Linked DNA regions of Homo sapiens: all the other regions are linked to region 2. The links come from fine-mapping of genetic effects on gene expression. A gene starts in region 2. Each other region holds a variant in brackets. All regions are shown on one strand. Distances are from middle to middle. Region 1 has its middle 26 kb from the start of PDCL3. Region 2 holds the start of CHST10 (carbohydrate sulfotransferase 10). Region 3 overlaps LINC01104 (long intergenic non-protein coding RNA 1104). Region 4 has its middle 30 kb from the start of AFF3.

Region 1 (5,150 bases), 120 kb before region 2:
CCCCAAACTATGGAGCCAAAACCCCACAACAATCTATTGTCTTGCTAAGATGTCCTCCAATAGGAGGTGGAAAACAGCCTGGCTTTACTTGGATCCTTTTCTATAAGGAGCTGAATCATCTTCAGAAATTTTAATATTAAAATGTTAATATTTAAATTATATATATATATATATGTATGGTTTTTGCGACGGAGTCTATATTATTACTACAAGCACGCGCCACCATGCCCGGCTAATTTTTGTATTTATAGTAGAGACGAGGTTTCACAATGTTGGCCAGGCTGGTCTCCAACTCTTGACTTTGTGATCTGCCTGCCTCAGCCTCCCAAAGTGCTGGAATTACAGGCATGAGCCACCACTCCAGCCTTAATAATATTAAAAGTCAGCCCTGGTACACTGAGAGCTCTTGGGAGGCACATTCAATTTTAAAATCCTCTTGCTTTTTGCTAACATAATCACTCAGCTATCAGAGATAAGGGAAAACAGGGTGGGGTTGGGTTGGGTGGGACGTGGTGTTATTTCAGAGCCTAGATTTTTCTGCAACGTGACATCAGTGTTTCCCAGCCTACTCTATGAAACTTTTCAAAGTTGTATCTTTTTTATAGTTTTGAGAATCAGGGAAGCAAAATATAGCATTTCTTACCCATCTAGTGTTGAGTCAGCTATGATGTTTTGAAAGAAGGACAGGACCAGTGTTATGAAATAATTGAAGCTTATATCATGTGACAACAATTATCGTAATGTTGTGTGAGTTATTAAGAAATTATTTTAGGCAGATAGAGAAGAAAAGGGGTCCTTGGAAAGTTGTTTCTTTTAAAGCAGCTCCATAAACTTTTTTTTTTTTGGAGACAGAGTCCTGCTCTGTGGCCCAGGTTGGAGTACAATGGTTCGATCTTGGCTCACTGCAACCGACACCTCCCGGCTTCAAGCGATTCTCCTGCCTCAGCCTCCCGAGTAGCTGGGATTACAGGCAACCGCCACCATGCCTGGCTAATTTTTTGTATTTTTAGTGGAGACGGGGTTTCACCATGTTGGCCAGGCTGGTCGGAACTCCTGACCAGAGGTGATCCAGCCCCCTCAGCCTCCTAAAGTGCTGGGATTACAGGCGTGAGCCACCACCCCTGGCTGAAACGTTTCTTGTCTAGCAGGAAAGCCCCAGCTCTTAGAGCCAAGTGGCAACCTTTGATATGCAAATGCAAGCCATTAGAAACTGAGTCCAGCCAAACAAGGCGATTTCCGCCCTCTTCTCCTTGCCCTTGCCCTGACCTGTGCCTGACAATATGGCCGCCCTCACATATCCCCACGTGGGTACAACATCCTGACGCCTTGTATATTAAAAGGCTAGGGTCGGAGGGCCAGTTTTTTTGCTGGCTAGGTGAATGACATCCCTGGTCAAACCAATCCCCTGAGCCCTATGCAAATCAGACACCACCTCCTCCAGCCTACTCATATAAGCAGCCACTTTTCTGTGGCACATGGGGTCTCCTCTCTTGGATTTGGAGTCCCCTCTGACTGTCACTGAATGGGGGAGCTTCTTCCTTCTTTCTTGCCTATTAAACTTTCCACTCCTTAAAACCACTCCATGTGTGTCCATGTCGTTTTACCCAATTCGTGGGAGACAAGAGCCCTGGTGGTGTTCCTCCACTCATCGGAGCTGTATCAGTCAGTGAAGATTGTATCTTTATTTTTATTTTATTTTATTTTTGAGACGGAGTCTAGCTCAGTCTCCCAGGCTGGAATGCAGTGGCCTGATCTCGTCTCACTGCAACCTCCACCTCCTGGGTTCAAGCAGTTCTCCTGCCTCAGCCCCCTGAATAGCTGGGATTACAGGCACCCACCACCATGCCCAGCTACTTTTTGTATTTTCAGTAGAGATGGGGTTTCACCATGTTGGCCAGGCTGGTCTCAAACTCCTGACCTCACGGTCTGCCCGCCTCGGCCTCCCAAAGCACTAGGATTATAGGCGTGAGCCACTGCGCTCGGCAAGATTGTATCTTTAAAGAGGTTTTGGATATCAGTGTTATTAAAGGAAGAAAATATTTATCTAAAATCTCCCTTTTTAAATTTTTTGAGAGAGACTCACTCTGTTGCCCAGGCTGGAGTGCAGTGGCGCAATCTCGGCTCACTGCAGCCTCTGCCTCCCAGGTTCAAGCGATTCTCCTGCCTCAGCCCCCTGAGTAGCTGAGATTACAGGCATGTGCCACCACACTTGGCTAATTTTAAGTTTTTTTGTTTGTTTGTTTGTTTCTTTGAGATGGAGTCTCACTCTGTCGCCTAGGCTGGAGTGTAGTGGTGTGATCTCCACTCACTGCAGCCTCTGCCACCTGG[G/A]TTCAAGCAATTCCCCTGCCTCAGCCTCCCGAGTAGCTGGGATTACCGGTACCTGCCACCACACCCTGCTAATTATTGTATTTTTAGTAGAGACGGGGTTTCACCATCTTGGCCAGGCTGGTCTTGAACTCTTGACCTCGTGATCCACCCGCCTCCCAAAGTGCTGGGATTGCAGGCGTGAGCCACCACACCCGGCTATTTTATAGTTAATAATTTAATTAGTTGAAATTCTTAGAGGTCTAATCTTGCTATTTGCTATGTAAGGCTATGGGGACACCCTTCTCTTTGAATAGAATTCTCTAAATCTGGAGACTGTGATTTAGATAAGTAGCATATATTAGAGAAAACGTTTTTAAATAGTTAATGCGATCCATCAAAGGGAGATTTTAGGCTGGATGCGGTGGTTCGCACCTTTGATCTCAGCACTTTGAGGGGCCGAGACAAGGAGGAAGAGGTGGTTAACTATTAAAGTGTTTTGAATGCTACATGTATTGAATGTTTGAGATGAACACAGCCTAGCTATTTCCCCTTGTGCCAACCACCTCAGACAAGGCTTTTAATCAATGGAAATACATACTTAGTGCAAACATTTTCAATAAACTACATCCATTGCTTTGCTTTATATTTATATGTTGCCAGGAAAATTACTTAAGCATCTTTGTTCATCTGTTCTAGCATATGTAAAGATTCAAATAAGAAATGTGGGGGCACATGTTCTCAGGATTTCCTGAGGCTGTGTCATGGGCCATTGTCACATTTGGCTCAGAATAAATCTATCCAAATATTTTACAGAGTTTGACTCTTTTTGTCAACAAGATCTGATGCTATCCCTAGGTAGAGAGTGTGGGGACTGAATTGAAGGCACATAGCTGCTGTCTGCTACTTGGTGGTTGGGAAAAACACTGGAAACCAAAAATAAAATTCTAAGTCCCCCAACCGACTGAATGGACTGCTCCTTTTGGCCAAGGGCACTCCAGAGTTCATCTGAAATTCTAGCTCAGGCCATAATAAGAAAGGGGGAGGATGGGGAATGCCTCATTACTCACCTCCCTTTGGAATTCAGGTACAGCTGACCAGCATTCACAGTAAAACAGAAGTCTTAGGACTGACCAAGCAATACGATATCAGTATGACCCATAGCAGGTCCTTAAAAAAAAATGTGTTCAGCAACCTTCATGAAGGAATAAAACTCCACTTGAACTAATCACATCGAAATTCAAAGCTTTTTGCAATATTCTTTTTTTTTTTTTTTTTTGAGACGGAATCTCGCTCTGTCGCCCAGGCTGGACTGCAGTGGTGCTATCTCAGCTCACTGCAAGCTCTGCCTCCCGGGTTCACACCATTCTCTTGCCTCAGCCTCCCAAGTAGCTGGGACTACAGGCGCCCGCCACCACGCCCGGCTAATTGTTTTGTATTTAGTAGAAACGGAGTTTCACTGTGTTAGCCAGGGTGGTCTCGAACTCCTGACCTTGTGATCTGCCCGCCTCAGCCTCCCAAAGTGCTGGGATTACAGGCATGAGCCACCACGCCTGGTCTGCTTTTTGTAATATTCTTTTTTTTTTCTTTTTTTCTTTTTTTTTTGAAACGGAGCCTTATTCTGTCACCCAGGCTGGAGTGCAGTGGCATGATATTGGCTCACCGCAACCTCCACCTCTCGGGTTCAAGTGATTCTCCTTCCTCAGCCTCCTGAGTAGCTGGGATTACAGGCGCCTGCCACCACACCCAGCTAATTTTTGTATATATTTAGTAGAGATGGGGTTTCACCATTTGGGCCAGGCTTGTCTTGAACTCCTGATCTTGTGATCCACCCGCCTCGGCCTCCCAAAGTGCTGGGATTGCAGGCGTGAGCCACCGCGCCCGGCCTGCAATATCCTTAAATCTTATTTCTGTACTACTCAAAACAACAGTTTGTTTTTCTCCTAAGGGATTAAGATAAAAATAATCAAGAGCCAGGCAAGGTGACTCATGCCTGTAATCCCAGCACTTTGGGAGGCTGAGGCCGGTGGATCACTTGAGCTCAGGAGTTCGAGACCAGCCTGGGCAACACAGTGAAACCCCATCTCTACTATAAAAAATACAAAAATCAGCCAGATGTAGTGGTGTGCCCCTGTAATCCCATCTACTCGGGAGGCTGAGGTGAGAGAATCATCTGAGCCTGGCAAGTCAAGGTTTCAGTGAGCTATGATGGCACCATTGTATTCCAGCCTAGGTGACAGAGTGAGACCCTGTCTCAAAAAAAAAAAAAAAAAAGATAAACAAAATCACTCATTTTCAAAACAAGGGTTTGTTGCTTCTGACATCTCTTTAAGTTAGTAAAATTGAGAGAGTCTGAAAGGGGGTGACCCATTTCCCTGTCCTAACGAGCTGGGCCAAATAGCCAAAGGCTTGATTGGAGGCACTGCAGGGCCAAACATCGTGACTTGTTGCCTCAAGTCCTCTCCATGGTCTGTGGGACAGATGGCAGCAGTGCTCTATGGAGTGGCTGGGTCTGAGTCAAGGTCAATGGCACCAACTCGAAGCACTTGCGAACTGAGGGGAGCTGGTATTTGGGAAGGGTCCAGGGGTCTGAAGGAGGCAAGTGGAGAAATGAACTTTCTAAGCCAATGCACCAATGACTGCAGCAGCTTTTCCTGTGGTGTCCCTGGCCAATGACATTGGAACACCCAGTGACATGGAGCAGGGTGGCCAAAAGCACTACCAAAATCACTGAGACTATTCTCCCTCAATTTCTTAGATCTTGTGTAGGAAATAAAATCTAGAAATTTAGGAGAAAAGTAGCAAGCATTAGAGCTGTCTTTCATCTTTGCATAATAACCCACCTA
Region 2 (5,150 bases):
GACTCACAGTTCTACATGGCTGGGGAGGCCTCAGGAAACTTACAATCATTGTGGAAGGCACCTCTTCACAGGGCGGCAGTAGAGAGAATGAGTGCTGAGTGAAGGGGGAAGCCCTTTATAAAACTATCAGATCTTATGAGAACTCACTCACTATCAGGAGAACAGCAGCATGGGGGTAACTGCCCCCAGGATCCAATTACCTCCCACAGGGTCCCTCCCATGACACGTGGGGATGACAGAAACTACAACTGAGATTTAGGTGGGGACACAGCCAAACTGTATCAGTCAGGAACCAGGGTCAAAGGCCAAATACATATTTCTTATTACACTACAACTGGTTGATCACTATACAATATTTTTTTACAACTAGTTGTTAGTACTACTTCTGATCTCATCAGAAAAATCTTTAAATATTGGGAAGCTGTCAAACTTACAGTGATGGATACAGGTTTTGCAAAAGTCTGATTTTTCACTTGAAAGCTTGAATGTTATCACAGACAACAAACACTATCATTTGTTTTTCTTGAAGTGACAGGCCCATGTCATTCATTTTGGAGGAAATGTCTGCCAAATGCCCAAATCTGGGTAACTGCAGTTTGTCTGTCAGTTCTGCTTTCAAGTAAAACTGGCGTTCCATAAAAAAGAGCTGCAGCTTGTGCATTGCAGGCCATTGCACAATGGCACGGCCTTCAGCAACCATCATCCTTGGGATGCAGCAGGATTGTTTCTGTGCATTTCCCACCCTGTCATGAGGGACATGACTGCTTCACGGGGGACATTCTTCAGTGACACTTTGTGTTTGTTTTTACTGCAAGTGCATGGTGGTGAAGGATGCAGTTACTACTGATTTGGTGTTGTCCCACTGCTGGGATTTGTGCTTACTTTTGCACAATCAGAGCAAATGTCTACATTGTAAAGAGGACAAATAATGTCCCAGTTCAACTATGAAAACAGTTTTGTCATTGCAGATCCTCTGAAAGGATCTTGGAGACTCCTAAAGATCCACTTTTTGGAGATCACTCTTTGCGAACTGCTATTTTAGAAACAATCCTCCTGCTACAAAGACTAAATATTTGGCTCACACGTGTAATCCCAGCACTTTGGGAGGCTGAGGCGGGTGGATAACTTGAGGTCAGGAGTTTGAGACCAGCCTGGCTAACATGGTGAAACCCCGTCTCTACTAAAAATACAAAAATTAGCCGGGTGTGGTGGCACGCACCTGTAATTCCAGCTACTTGAGAGACTGAGACAGGAGAATCACTTGAACCCAGGAGGCAGAGGTTGCAGTGAGCTGGGATGGCACCACTGCACTCCAACCTGGGCGACAGAGCGAGATTCCGTCTCAAAAAAAAAAAAAAGACTAAATACTAATATTTTCCTAGACATTCATTTATAGGAAAAAAAGAGGAACTATTTTGAAAAACTCCAACAAAAAAAACCAAAAAACCTCAGTTACCTTAGTTGTCAATGTGTAAGCCTCTAGAACAAACTCCATCTTTTAAAGTTTTGAACAGTATCTTGGGAATGCAGTAATAACAGTGACAATAGTGTGTGTTTGTTGCAGTGTTTACTACTGCGGGATGACTGTGCTTTGTATTTTAAATGCATCCTCTACAATATTCTTTAGTACCACACTTTTTTTTTTTTTTTTGAAGGAGTTTCACTCTTGTTGCCCAGGCTGGAGTGCAGTGGCGAGATCTCGACTCACCGCAACCTCCGCCTCCTGGGTTCAAGCAATTCTCCTGCCTCAGTCTCCCGAGCAGCTGGGATTACAGGCACGTGCCCCCACTCCTGGCTAATTTTTTTTGTAGTTTTATTAGAGACAGGGTTTCTCCATGTTGGTCATGCTGGTCTCGAACTCCCGACCTCAGGTGATCCACCTACCTCCGCCTCTCAAAATGTTGGGATTACAGGCGTGAGCCACCACGCCCGGCCTAGTACCACATTCTGTAGATGAGAAGACTGGGACACAGAGAGATGAGAGTGTGACAAGGTCAACAGTCATATGCAGTGACTAAGGCTCTGAATCCACGTGGTCTGATTCCCAGAGCCTTGATCCTTAAATCCTGCATAATATGCTGCATCACATCCAAGCTTCACATTTACTTACTTCTTTTCTGCCGTGCACGTGTATCGATTCAAATCCTCAAAGGGAAACCCAATGTCTCATCTCAACCACAGGGCCCCAAAAAAGGGCTCAGTAAACGTCTTCTGCATGAGGGACAGAACCTTTAAACCATGATTAGTAATGGGGCTAGAAGTGAAATACTCAAACAGCCAGCTCCCTCAATATTATTAACTCATTAAGGAGGGAACCAATAAAAAAGAAAAAAAACAAAAACAAAAACGCTTGTTCCTTGAAAGCTTTGAAAAATTGTGTGTGTGTGTGTGTGTGTGTGTATACATACACGTATCTATTTTACTTGTTTGCTAAATAGACACAGATATAGTCGGGTAGTTAACAAACATGTAGGTTGTATAAAAATAAAACTAGTTTATCTTCTTTGGGGCAATAAAATCCCAATACCTTTGAGGTTGACTCAGGCCTTATCCATTTCTGCAGGTTAAGAAGTTACAATTCTTCAGGTCTGTAAACTGGTCAGGCCGTTATCATTGTCCTTCGTTAATCCACTGTACCTAGACAACAGTTACATCCCCAACCCGGACAGCCAAGGGGGTTCTTTAAAGAATAGAACGTCCCCCTTTTACTAAGTAGGCTTATTAGAAAATGCTAGAAGTTACCCTTAACGCAAGCAAGTGGCCTTTTTCCAAGTTGGGGATTTAAGAAATTTACTTATCTATTTTTTGTATTTTTCCAAGGTGGTTTTGTGTGTGTGTGTGACTTTGTTGTTGTTTTGGTTTGGTTTTTTGCCTTTTTCCAAGTTTGGGATTTTTTTTCTTTCTCAAAAAGCGAACCTGTTTTCTGGATGGAGGCCCAGCGGGACTTGTTCCGGCCGCAGGTCTCGGTCAGAAAGAACGCTTTTGCAGCGGCAGAAAGGGAGACTCGGGATCCGGGCCTGGGGTCCCGCGGCCGCGCCCCTCCCCACTCCCCGCGACCCGCTGGAACGCGCACGGCCGGGGACGGCGGCGGGGACGCGCGCGGGCAGGCGGCGCGCACGGCCGGATAGGCGCGAGGGGGCCGCGTGAGGCGGTGCCGGCGTTCTGGCCCCCAAAGCCGGTCTAGCGCGCCGGGCGTCTTCCTTACTTCCGCTGCCGCCGCCGCCACATCCCGGGACCCGACGGGCCGCGGCGCGGAGGCCTCGGGGCAAGGTGGGGCGGGCCTCCCGAGCTCCCAGGACCCCGCGCGCTTCGCCCACAGGCCCGGCGAAGCCCGACCCGCGCGGCGCCCCCAGGGCCAGGGGAGGAGCCTAAGGACCCGGACGAGCGCCGCTCCAGTAGGGTGAGCTCGGGGACGCGCAGGCGGGTGGGTTTCAGCGCCTGGGCCCCTCTCCCCGCCGCGGGGCGCACGGAAAAACCGGGGAACCCGCGGGTTTTGTCCTGGCGAGCCACATCCCGGTGTGTTTTGGCGACTTGAAGACCTCCCTAGTTCGCGGGAGTAGCGGGAAGAGCCTTCCTCGCGTTAATTATGCAATAAGAAGGCGTCCTTGTGCGGGATGCTGTGACCCGCGGAATTATTGATATTGTGCGAGCCTACAATTTACTTCTTTCATCCTTGGCTGAGAATTTGCGTTTGTAATTGTAGATGGAGAGAGGAAGAAAGGGTTCAGCTTGGGTCCAAGGAGCATGCAGAGGAAGGCAGGGAAGAAGGAGCATGTGCAGCTTCGGTGCGAGGGGAGTCAGGGGTGGGAATGCACGTTCCCTGCCTGAGGGGCCCCGGGGTGCCCTGAGCCTCTGATCTTCGCTGTCAGGAGGCCTGTCCGAAGTTGGAGGTTGAGGCATGCAGTTCTGCACTTCTGGCTGGGAAGGTGAACCAGGTTTTCCAAAATGTCATTTTTGCTTTCCAAGTCTGCAAGGCAGGAAAGGGTTGGGCAGTGAATGGAAAGTAGTGCAGCCAGGTTCTGGTTAGCTCAGCGGCAGGACTGTCATAACGGTGGGTTTTTGTTGTTGTTGTTGTTGTTGTTGTTTTGTCTGAAAACCAGAGTCTGGGGCTTTGGGCCATGAGGAGTTGGGTTATTGCATTGCTTAGAGTGCCAGAGTGAGAAATGTCTCAGACGCTGTTAAAATTAGGCAGCTCAGTTTAGCTCTGGCTCTCTGATAACCAACCACCTCCTCCTTCACTCTTTTCAGTGACTGGGTTAAAATGAAAAGACACAAAGAGAGAAGTGGTCTTTTCCCTTCCCTCCCCATTATAATTAAGAGCTTAGTCCATCTTGGCTCAGAATTGGAATTCAGAATTCAGAATTGCTCTTGACCCTGAAGAATAGAATCTCAAAGAAATACCTGAGCAGAAAATTCTCTTCTTCGCTGAAATGAAAATTGGAGTGTTTGCAAAACTGAACAAAGAAAGGAAAGAATTTGTAAACATCACAGGCAACTTGCAGTTATATTCGGATCATTTTTCAGTGTTTGAGGAGTTCATACAATAAAAAGGTGAGAGAGAGCCAGGAATAGAAACAGGGGAGAGAGGTGGTTGCAGGACCTTAGAGATTGCAGAAACCCAGGAGTTCATTTTCTTTTCATACACTTCTGGATAACCTGGATGTGAGGACCATCAAATGCCGTACATGATGTTTCTAACAATGATGGACCACATATACAACAGTGGTCCCATAAGACTATACTACCTTATTTTTACTCTACCTTTTCTAATTTTAGATACACAAATACTTACCATTGTATTACAGATGCTTACAGTATTCAGTACAGTAACAGCAGTACAAGTTAGTAGCCCGGGAGCAATAGATGATTCCATATAGCCTAGGTGTGTGGTCAGCTGTACCATATAGCCTAGGTGTGTGGTTAGCTGTACTATCTAGGTTTATGTAAGAACGCTCTGATGTTTGCAGAAGAACATCGCCTAACGATACATTTCTCAGAAGGTATCCCTATTGTTAAGTGATGAATGACTGTATATAAAGCTTAATCTTTCAATCAACATAATAGGAAATTGCTTTTAATTTTAGCATTGAGTTCTTAGAGTAAAGGGAGGCAGAGAGAGACCGTGCTGCATGTGTCCCAGTCAGCTTGGG
Region 3 (5,150 bases), 170 kb after region 2:
AATGGCTTTGTACTGGGAGGTGGGTCTTTGGGAGGTAATTGAGGCATGAGGGTGGAGCCCCCATAAATGACATTGGAGTCGTTATAAAAGTGACCTCCGAGAGCTCTCTTGCCCTCTTTCCACCATGTGAGGACACATGAGAAGCTGACAGAGGGCCGTCGCCAGAGCCTGACCATGTGGCCCCTGACCTGAGACTTCCAGCCTCCAGAACTGTGAGCATCAGTGTTTATCTTGAAGCCTCTCAGTCTATGGTAATTTGTTATTGCAGCCCCAACTGACCGAGACGCTAAGGGCTTCACCGAAGGGGAGAGGCCAGGCCGGGTCCTGAGGCAAGGGTAGGAGCTTGCCAGCAGGTGGTGGTGAGGCCACAGAGTCCTGATTCAAGGCAGAGGCAAGAACTTCACGTTGGAGAGCGAGCCCAAGGCCGGGAGGCTGAGGGGAAATTGGGAGAAGTCAGGAAGGCTGGGTTGTAGGAAGCTAGCCATGGCCACTTGGATCCAGAGGGCCCCTCTACAGACGGGAGAAAGGCCAAGAGTCACACCAAGGTACCACACAGTCACCTGACATGACACATCTGGCCGGGCAGGGGCTGCGAGAGCCGCCCATTTGGGCAGGGAGCCGTCATTCAGGACTGACATTGTTCACAACGGAGCTTGTGGTGGTGATGAAAAGAGGGCTAAACTTGAGTTAGTTTTCTTCTCATTTTAAATTCTCTATAGACAATGCACCTCCTGCTTCCCTTGTTCAGGCCAGCCACTCCCACCACCATTGGTTAAAAGATAATAAGGCCGGGCGCAGTGGCTCACGCCTGTAATCCCAGCACTTTGGGAGGCCGAGATGGGCAGATCACGAGGTCTGGAGATCAAGACCATCCTGGCTAACATGCTGAAACACCATCTCTACTAAAAAAATACAGGTGTGGTGGCGGGCACCTGTGGTCCCAGCTACTTGGGAGGCTGAGGCAGGAGAATGGCATGAACCTGGGAGGCAGAGCTTGCAGTGAGCCAAGATCCTGCCACTGCACTCCAGCCTGGGTGACAGAGCAAGACTCCATCTCAAAAAAAGACAAAGAAGAAGAACCTTTGGAACAGCTGGGTCATCCGGGCAGAGTGTTTGGTTTGGTTGCTGTTTTTTTGGGTGTTTGTTTTTTGTTCATTTAAGCCTGGATTCCTTAGTATATATAGGGTAACATTCCCTTAAGACAACTTAAATACAATGTCAGCCACACATGCAAGCCACATGGGTAATCGAGTAGCCATATTTTTTAAAAGTGAAGAGAAACAGATGAAACCAATTTTAATATTACTTTATTTCACTTAATATATTAAATATCTAAAAATTAGCATTTCAACATGTAATCCATAGAAAAACTATTCATGAGTTATTTTCCTTTGTTTTGTCTTTGAAATCTGGTGTGGGTTTTCAACTCGGCACCCACCTCCGCTCGACTCTCCACTCTTCCAGCGCCCAACAGCTGTGTGCAGCAAGCAGCCTGGGACAGGGCAGCACAGCCCAGCGCCTCTAAAATGAGCCCAGATCAAGCTGTGGCCACTCAGACCATATCAGTCCCTTTGAGTTTTTGGTCTGCTTGTTTTTGTCATCCAATAGGACCTTCACTGAGTCAGCAGGCATGTACCAATAAGCCCTAAATATTAAGAACACATTGATGTGATTCCCAGGGTAGCAACATCTCCTTACTTGAAAAGCACAACCCAAACGCAGGCCTTGCAAAGTGGAGTAGCCGATGCTGAGAGAAGAGCTGCTTCCACCGCTTTCATCAGCACCATAATCAAAAGGCATGAGAGGCTGCAGCTGAAGGGAGGGGAGGGAAGTGGTCAAGACCAGGAGTGATCAGCTGGGACCTCTACAACCAGCGTTCAGGGTGGACATGGGTCTCTCTGCTTTCCTGCTCTCTTTGGCTCCACTGTTCATTTTGAAAGCCATGCCGCTTCATGTCGGTAAACGAACTGGTCCTAAGGTCAGCCCAGGGAAAAGCATGTTAATAGATCCTCCAGACCTCAGGTTCTAAAGAACTGAACAGCATTTTCCTAAGATGCCTCAGGCGCCACCTAAGCCACTGGGCAGGAAAGCCTGCCAAGTCTTTTTCAGGGCCAGAAGCAAGGTTTCACCAACCGGGCCCCTCCACCCTGGCCCAGGGACTCACATTCTACGGAGCTGGGGCTCCGCTGAGCACAGCTCTCCCCTGGGCTGGAACGCCCATCTGGCGGCCTGCCCTGGCTCAGGAGGAGACAAGCCTGGGAGGTCATCCATGAAAACTCCACACTGCCTCCTGGGCACTCGCTTCTTTCTTCTGACCACCAAAACATATATACACAGGACTCTTCGACTTTTAGAACGGCTTTGATAATCCCTGCAAGGAGAGACTGGGTTACAGAAAGCACAAAAGTGGTCAATTTGCAAAGGTTCCCAAACCTTGGCGAGTTCTTCTAGTTCCTGACTTCTACCTGGGATGGCAGATGGTAACTTGACAGGACCCAGGGACGGATTTTTGAAATGAAATGTTGCATACTACAGAAAAGCCCTGTGAATATAATCCCACCTTTGGCCCCATTGTTGACTCTATCAAATCCTAACATGTTTATGGATTTGATTCATATTTATTTTTAAGACGTGAACAATTATAGGTAGTATGATATAATAAAGAATAATAAAAATAATAGGTTTGTGAGTGCTGGTGTATCCTTCCCCCAACGTCTGTGTGTGTGCACACATGCACACACAGGCACATGCATTCATGCACACTCACACACACACACACACACACACACACACACACACA[G/CACACAG]GTAGTGAGTGAGCCCTCAGATCCGGCCTTTAGCCTGGGAAACTCCTCATTCTGTACAGGCTGTAGAGACCACCGACCATGGAGCTTGTTTGAGGAACTAAAGATGTAAAAAGGAATATAAGCCAGTGGGGTGCGGTGGCTCACACCTGTAATCCCAACACTTTGGGAGGCCAAGGTGGGTGGATTGCCTGAGCTCAGGAGTTTGAGACCAGCCTGGGCAACACGGTGAAACCCCGTCTCTACTAAAATACAAAAAATTAGCCAAATGTGGTTGCGTGCACCTGTAATCCCAGCTATTCAGGAGGCTGAGACAGGAGAATCGCTTGAACCCGGGAGGTGGAGGTTGCAGTGAGCCGAGATTGCGCCACTGCACTCCAGCCTGGGTGACAGAGCAAGACTCCATCTCAGAAAAAAAAAAAAAAAAAGGAATCTAAGCCGTTCACTTTACCCTTAAACTTGGCTACATACTTTGTGCTGTTTGTCTGCTGTTCCTCAGTAAAAAAGTGAAAATCACCTTAACCAAGCGTGTGTTCTTACTCACCCCAGTCCTCAAACACTGACCAACCTTCCACAGTGTCCTATATAGATATATATATCTCCTGCAACCTGTGGTTAGGCCCAGCTTTATCGGTAATTAACATTGTGTAACTGTGCCTCAATTTACAGGTCTATCCTCTTTCCAGTGAACATTTGGGTTCTTTCCTTTTCCCGAACTAAACAAAGCTACAATTATTAACATTGTTTATGGCCGGGCTCACTGGCTCACATCTGTAATCCCAACACTTTGGGAGGCCAAGGCGGGAGGATCACTTGAGGTCAGGAGTTTGAGACCAGCCTGACCAACATGTAGACATGACCATGTCTCTATTGAAAATACAAAAATTAGCCAGGTGTGGTGGTGCGCACCTGTAACCCCAGCTACTTGGGAGGCTGCAGCAGGAGAATTGCTTGAACCTGGGAGGCACAGGTTGCAGTGAGCCATGACGGTGCCACTGCACTCCAGCCTGGGCAACAGAGCAAGACTTCATCTCAAAAAACAAACAAACAAAAAACATTGTTTACCAGTGCTGTTGTGAAACACTTTTGATTTCAGGTGATCTGATGTAATTGAAAGGTGTCTCACTGTGGTTTTTATTTGCCTTCTGATTCTAGAACAGCTGAGGATTTTTTTTTTTTTTTTTTTGACAGGGTTTCACTCTGTCATCCAGGCTGGAGTGCAGTGGTACGATGGTGGCTCACTGCAGTCTCAACCTTCTGGGCTTAGATGATCTTCCCACCTCAGCCTCCTGAGTAGCTGGGACTCCAGGCACATGCCACCACACCCAGCTAAGTTTTTATAGAGATGGGGTTTTGCCATGTTTCCCATGCCAGTCTCGAACGCCTGGGCTCAAGTGATCCTCTTGCCTTGGCCTCCCAAAGTGCTGGGATTACAGAGGTGAGCCACTGCGCCTAGCCACAGCTGAGGATCCTTTCATAGGCCATTGATCATCCTGCTTTCTTCTATGAATTGCCTGTCATGCCCTTGGTATGGACAGTTTTTTAACGTAGGAGTGTCATGCCTGACATGGTAAAGGAAAGGTCCAGTATCTTCCAATGGGAATGTCTTCCCAGCAGAATGACCCCAACAAAGGAGGCATTCGGTAAAGGCATGGACCACCCCAAGAGCCAGGGGATTTGTTCAGTCAGCACCTGAGCCTCCTCTTGCAGGTGTTCTAACAGAATGAGGCCAAATGTTGACTTCACTTGCAGCGATCCCTCTGCACAGTCCCTTTGAGGAACCTAAAACCTTTGCAGGTGGAAATGACGTGTTTTCAAAGTGAACACGTGCATCACCAGGTTGCGCTGAGGGAAAACTATTTCTATTCACTTTCTGTGGCAGCCGAGACAAATTACACAAAATGTTGACGTAAAACAAGGAAAGTGTATTATCTCACAACTGTGGAAGCCAGAAGTCCAAAATCAAGGTACTGGCAGGGCCATGCACCCTCTAGAAACAGCGCGGGGAAGCTGCTCTTACCCCTTCCAGCTTCTGGTGGTTGTCGGCCTTCCTTGACTTGTGGCTGTGATTCTCCAATCTCTGCCTCCCTCTTCACAGGATCTTCTCCTCTGTGTGTCTCATATAAGACACTTGCCATTGTGAGATTTTTATGAAGGGAGTGTGTGTGTGTGTGTGTGTGTGAGAGAGAGAGAGAGAGAGAGAGAAAGAGGCTGAAGGAGGGTGAAGGAAGGGCTGGTATTTTAAGCCATCCATGACCTTTTCACTGTTCTGCTGTGTGACCTGGGCCCGTTAGTTCACCACTCTGAACCTCCTCTTCTCCACCCTATGAACTGGATCCAATGACCGCCAGCT
Region 4 (5,150 bases), 250 kb after region 2:
TTGAAAGAAAAGTCAGGATCCATTACTTTTTCCACCCAGAGTTCAGACACAGCAGCATTTCCTAGCATTGACCACTTTCTTTTTCTTTTTTCTTTTCTTTTCTTTTTCTTTTTTTTCTTTTTTTCTTTTTTCTTTTTCTTTTTTTTTTTTTTTTTGAGACAGTCTCTTACTCTGTTGCTGAGGCTGGAGTGCAGTGGCTCGATCTCGGCTCACTGCAACCTCTGCCTCCTGGGTTCAAGTGATTCTCCTGCCTCAGCCTCCTGAGTAGCTGGGACTACAGGCATGCACCACCATGCCCAGCTAATTTCTGTATTTTTAGTAGAGACTGAGTTTCGCCATGTTGGCCAGGCTGGTCTCGAACTCCTGACCACAGGTGATCTGCCCACCTCGGCCTCCTAAAGTGCTGGGATTACAGGCATGAGCCACTGTTCATGCCCACACCCTGGGGTTTGCCCTCCAATCCCATCCTGACAGAATGCTGGTCTGAGAACGCCAGGCTCAGAGAATCATCTTCTTGTCTGTCCTGTGGGTCACGATCTCGAGGTTTCACCAGGCGCCCTAAGAGGATGAAGTATCTTGGCTCTGTTGAAGCCTGGACACAAGAATGTCCTTGAGAAAGCATTTCTGTAATCTCTATTACTGGAATGTGGATTAAAAAGGCTTGCTGGAGTGAGCTGCTAAATCTTTACAAATGTTTAGGATAAAGTACAAATGAGAAAAATATGTTCAGCTAGGCTTTTTGTTTCTAATGAAAGAGTGCTCTTAATTCTTTTCTACTGAAAATAGAAGTGTTGTGATCCAGCAGAAGGACCGCAGGCCAGATGCTGGGGCCATTGTCCTCAAGGGCAATGCTCTCGTTGCTTTCCAACTCTGTCTTGCTTCCTCTTTCTTTCTCTCTCTTTCTCGATCTCTCTCCCCCTTCTCATGACAAGGAAAGCCAATAATTTTGCTTTTATTTAACAACAGTCTATTGACTATGAGCCACAAACACATTCTTCTGGGCCACTGGCAAACATTTTAGATGGTGCTAGGTATTTTGGTGGGCTAAGGTTTTACTGATTAGGACAGCTAAAAAGAAACTGGCATACAGTGGCAGTTAAGAATTGGCTAACTTTACTGGCAACTAAAAATTGCAGAGGAAACTGAACATTGGTGATTTTATAGAGTTTTTAAGTAAAATTATTATGGAAGTATAATATGCATTTAGAAAATTATACAAATCATATGTGTATAACTAAGTTTTCACTAAATGCATACATATATGATGATCACCCAGATCAGGAAACAATGCTGCCAGCACCTCAGATGCTCTCTATGTGCCCTCTTTCATCACTACCATTATCCCCAAAGGTGACTGCTGTCAAGTCCTCTACCATCATCAGTTTTGCCTGGAATTATAAGTATGCACTCTCTTGTGAATGGGTTCTCTTAGGCAAAATTCTGTTTGTGACATTTATTTGCATTATTGCATGTAGCAGTAATACGTTCATTGCTATTGATCTAAGGCAGGGAACGGCAGACTACAGCCCACCATGGCCTATTGTTGTATGAGTCGCAAGCTAACAATGACATTTATTTTGTAAAGGATTGTAAAAAAAATGAAGAATATGCAACAGAGGCAATCTGTTATCTGCAAAACTGAAGATGTTTATTTTCTGGCTCTTGACAAAAAAGTCTGCTGATCCCTACTGTAGAGTATTCTGTTGTAGGACTATACCACAATTTATTGATTCATGTATTGATGCTGAAGAACGTTTGGGCTGTTTTTCGTTTCAGCGTCCATCAGTAATGCTGCTATAAATATTCTTGCATGTGCATTTTGGAGTGTGTGTACACATTTCTGTTGGGGATATACCCAGGGGCATAAGTTATGCAGATATTCAGCATTAGTAGATTTTACTGTCAAAGAGTTGTATAAATCTACACACTCATCAATAGTGATTGGGAGTTCCAGTTGTTCCACATCTTTATCAACACTTGGTATTGTCTGTCTTTTTTATTTTAATCATTTTGGTGTATATGCAGTAGTATCTCCTTGTGATTTTGGTTTGTATTCATCTGATGTCTCATGATGTGAAACGCTTTCATATTAATATTGAACATTTGTCTTCCCTTTGTGATATAGCTGCTTGCATGTCTTGTCCAAGGTTTGTCTGCATTTTCTTCATTTATTGGTATAATTTCTTTATCAAATTCTCTGTTAGATATGAATTGCAAATACTTTGATCTATTCAATGATTTGCACCTTAACTCCCTAGCATTCTATTCTTTTGAGGAACAGAAATTCTTAATTTTAACATAGTCTAATTTATCAATTTTCCCTCATAGTCAATGCTTTTTGTATCCTATTTAATAAATCTTTGCTTAACCCTGTGTCACAAAGATATTCTCCAATGTTTTCTTCTGGAAGTTTTATGGTTTACCCTTCACAGGTAGATTTGCAAGTCACCTGGAATTGGTAA[C/T]TTTGTATGGTGTGACGCAGATGTCAAGATTTTTGTCCCTTATGGGTATCCAATTGGCCCAGCACTGCCTTTGGAAAAAATGCCCCCACTGTGCTGCAGTGTCACCCTTGTCATAAATCAGTGACAATGTACATGCCAGTCTGTTTCTGGACTCTCCATTGTTTCCATAGAAATTACACTGTGGGTATGGCCAGGCACAGTGGCTCACGCCTGTAATCCCACCACTTTAGGAGGCCAAGGTGGGCAGATCACTTGAGGCCAGGAGTTTGAGACCAGCCTGGCCAACATGGCAAAACCCTGTCTCTACTAAGAATACAAAAATTAGCCGGGCGCAGGGGTGGACGCCTGTGGCCCCTGTGGACATTTGAGCCCAGGAGGTGGAGGTTGCAGTAAGCCATGATCATGCCACTGCACTCCAGCCTGTGTAACAGAGCAAGACCCTGTCTCAAAAATAAATAAATAAATAAATAAGGAATTACTCTGTGGTTAGATAAGATCTTCATCTTTCTTCTTATTCTTCAAGGTTGTCTTGACTCTTCTTGGCCCTTTGCATTCCCATATAAACTTACTGAATCAATAGGTCAATTTGAGGAGAAATGAGATTTTTATAGGATAAAAAATAAATATGGTATATCCTCCATTTATTTAGGTCTCCTTTAATTTCTCTGTATACTATCTTGTAATTTTCAGTGCAGAAGAATTACATAACTTTCATTAAGTTTATTCCTAGTTATATGACGTTTGTTGATTTTTTTAAATTGTATCTTATTAAATTTTTATTTTGTGATTGTTCCTCATATGTAGAAATACAATTGATTGCTGTATTTTGACTCTGTTTTCTGTGTTCTCACTACATTTATTATTAATTCTGAGTGTTTGTGGAATCTTTCCTACATAAACAATCATGCTGCTGTGAAGAATAACAGTTTTATTATTTCCTGTCAATTCTTGTAATTTTTTTCTAACCTTCTTGTACTGGCCATATTATATAGTATAATAGTGAACAGAAGCAGTGAGAGCAAGGCCAGGTACGGTGGCTCATCCCTCTAATCCTGGCACTTTGGGAGGCCAAGGTGACTGGATGACTTGAGGTCAGGAGTTTGAGACCAGCCTGGCCAACATGGTGAAACCCCGTCTCTACTAAAAAACACAAAATTTAGCTAGGTGTGGTGGCGGGTACCTGTAATCCCAGCTACTCGGGAGGCTGAGGCAGGAGAATCGCTTGAACCTGGGAGGCAGAGGTTGTAGTGAGCCGAGATCGCACCACTGCACTCCAGCCTGAGCGACAGAAAGAGACTCTGTCTCAAAAAAAAGAAAAAAAGAAGCAGTGAGAGTGAACACCTTTGTTTCATGCCTAATCACAGGGATAAAAGCTTTCACTAGCTTTTCTATAATGTTTCTATAAGAAACATTAAGTAAAATGTTTCTTGTAGACTATTTGTAAATATTTTGTCATTCTAAGGGCGTTCCCTTTTATATCTAGTTTGGTGTTTTTTAAAGTAAATAAATCAGTCTTGAATTTAATCAAATGCTTTTTATAAATCTGTTGAAATAATATGATTTTTCACATCTATTATGAAATTACATCCATAACATGAATTACATTGAACTATTTTTTCAGATGTTACACTAACATTGCATTACTGAAAAAAACCAATTCCTTGTGATATGTTATACTCTTCATAAATTGCAGGATACAGTTTGTTAATATTTTCTTTAGGATTTTGCATCAGAAGAGAGATTAGCTGACTTTTTTTGTATTGTCTTCTTGTGTCTGGTTTTGCTATCAAGAATATGCTGGGTTTATAGAACATGTTGGAAAGTATTTTCTTTTCATGTGTTCTCTAAAAGAGTTTGTGTAAGAATGGTATTATTTCTTCCTTAAGTTCAGAAGAATTCACCAGTGACTACCTCTAGGACAAAAGATATCTTTGTAGAAAAACTGTATTTAAATTTATTAACAGGTTTACTGAAGTGAATTGACAGATGAGAATGCACACATACCTAAAGTAAATAATTTGATAAGTTTTAACATATGTATACACCCGTGAGACCATTACCAATCACCACAATCAAGATAATGGAAAGCTCCAGCATTCCCACAAGACTGCTTGTGCTCCTTTGTGGTACCTCCCACTGCCCTCCCCATGCCTCATCCCTCAGCTTGATGACACTTTCTATTATTTGCCTTTTCTTTAAATTTAATAGAGGCAAAATCATAAGTCTGTTCATTTTGTCAGTCTTCTTTCACTCAGCATAACTATTTTGAGATTCATTTGCATCGTGCTTTGTATTGATAATTCTTTTTTATTTTTTTTTGGCTGGGCAATACTTCCACTGTATGGACACACTGCAATTCATTTAACCAATCACCTCTTGATGTGTGTTGGTTTCTCATTTGAGGCTATTGCAAATAAGCCTGCTAAAAAGATTTGCATACAATCTTGGCGTGGACATACGTTTTCTTTTCTTGTCTAGTCTATCTAGGAGTAGAATGGCTAGGCCATATGGTAGGTATGTGTTTAACTTTCTAAAAATCTGCCAAACTGTTTTTCAAAATAGTTGTGCCATTTACATTCCCACCAGCAATGTATGAGAATCGCGGTTGCTCCACATCATCTCCAACACTTGGTACATTTGGACATTTTAATCTTAGACATTCTAATCTATGTGTAGTAATATCTCATG

What was found. PIP is the estimated chance that this variant, and not a neighbour inherited with it, causes the effect.
Region 1: its variant is fine-mapped to the expression of CHST10 in whole blood (TOPMed, PIP 0.95).
Region 3: its variant is fine-mapped to the expression of CHST10 in whole blood (INTERVAL, PIP above 0.99).
Region 4: its variant is fine-mapped to the expression of CHST10 in whole blood (INTERVAL, PIP 0.91).

What each region holds. Positions count from the first base shown.
Region 1 is chr2:100,534,213-100,539,362 of GRCh38, reverse strand. No RefSeq gene overlaps it. Among named protein-coding and RNA genes, the nearest start is that of PDCL3, 26 kb to the left of the region's middle. RefSeq lists an enhancer at 979-1,530. The variant G/A (reference allele first, on the strand shown) is at 2,329.
Region 2 is chr2:100,415,624-100,420,773 of GRCh38, reverse strand. CHST10 (carbohydrate sulfotransferase 10) reads left to right here and starts at 3,106. Exons shown (of 7, transcript NM_004854.5): 1 at 3,106-3,400. RefSeq lists silencers at 3,001-3,450, 3,461-3,610.
Region 3 is chr2:100,250,318-100,255,467 of GRCh38, reverse strand. LINC01104 (long intergenic non-protein coding RNA 1104) reads right to left here. Exons shown (of 3, transcript NR_103730.1): 3 at 3,984-5,150. Among named protein-coding and RNA genes, the nearest start is that of LINC01104, 45 kb to the right of the region's middle. RefSeq lists an enhancer at 1-461. The variant G/CACACAG (reference allele first, on the strand shown) is at 2,801.
Region 4 is chr2:100,169,799-100,174,948 of GRCh38, reverse strand. No RefSeq gene overlaps it. Among named protein-coding and RNA genes, the nearest start is that of AFF3, 30 kb to the right of the region's middle. The variant C/T (reference allele first, on the strand shown) is at 2,463.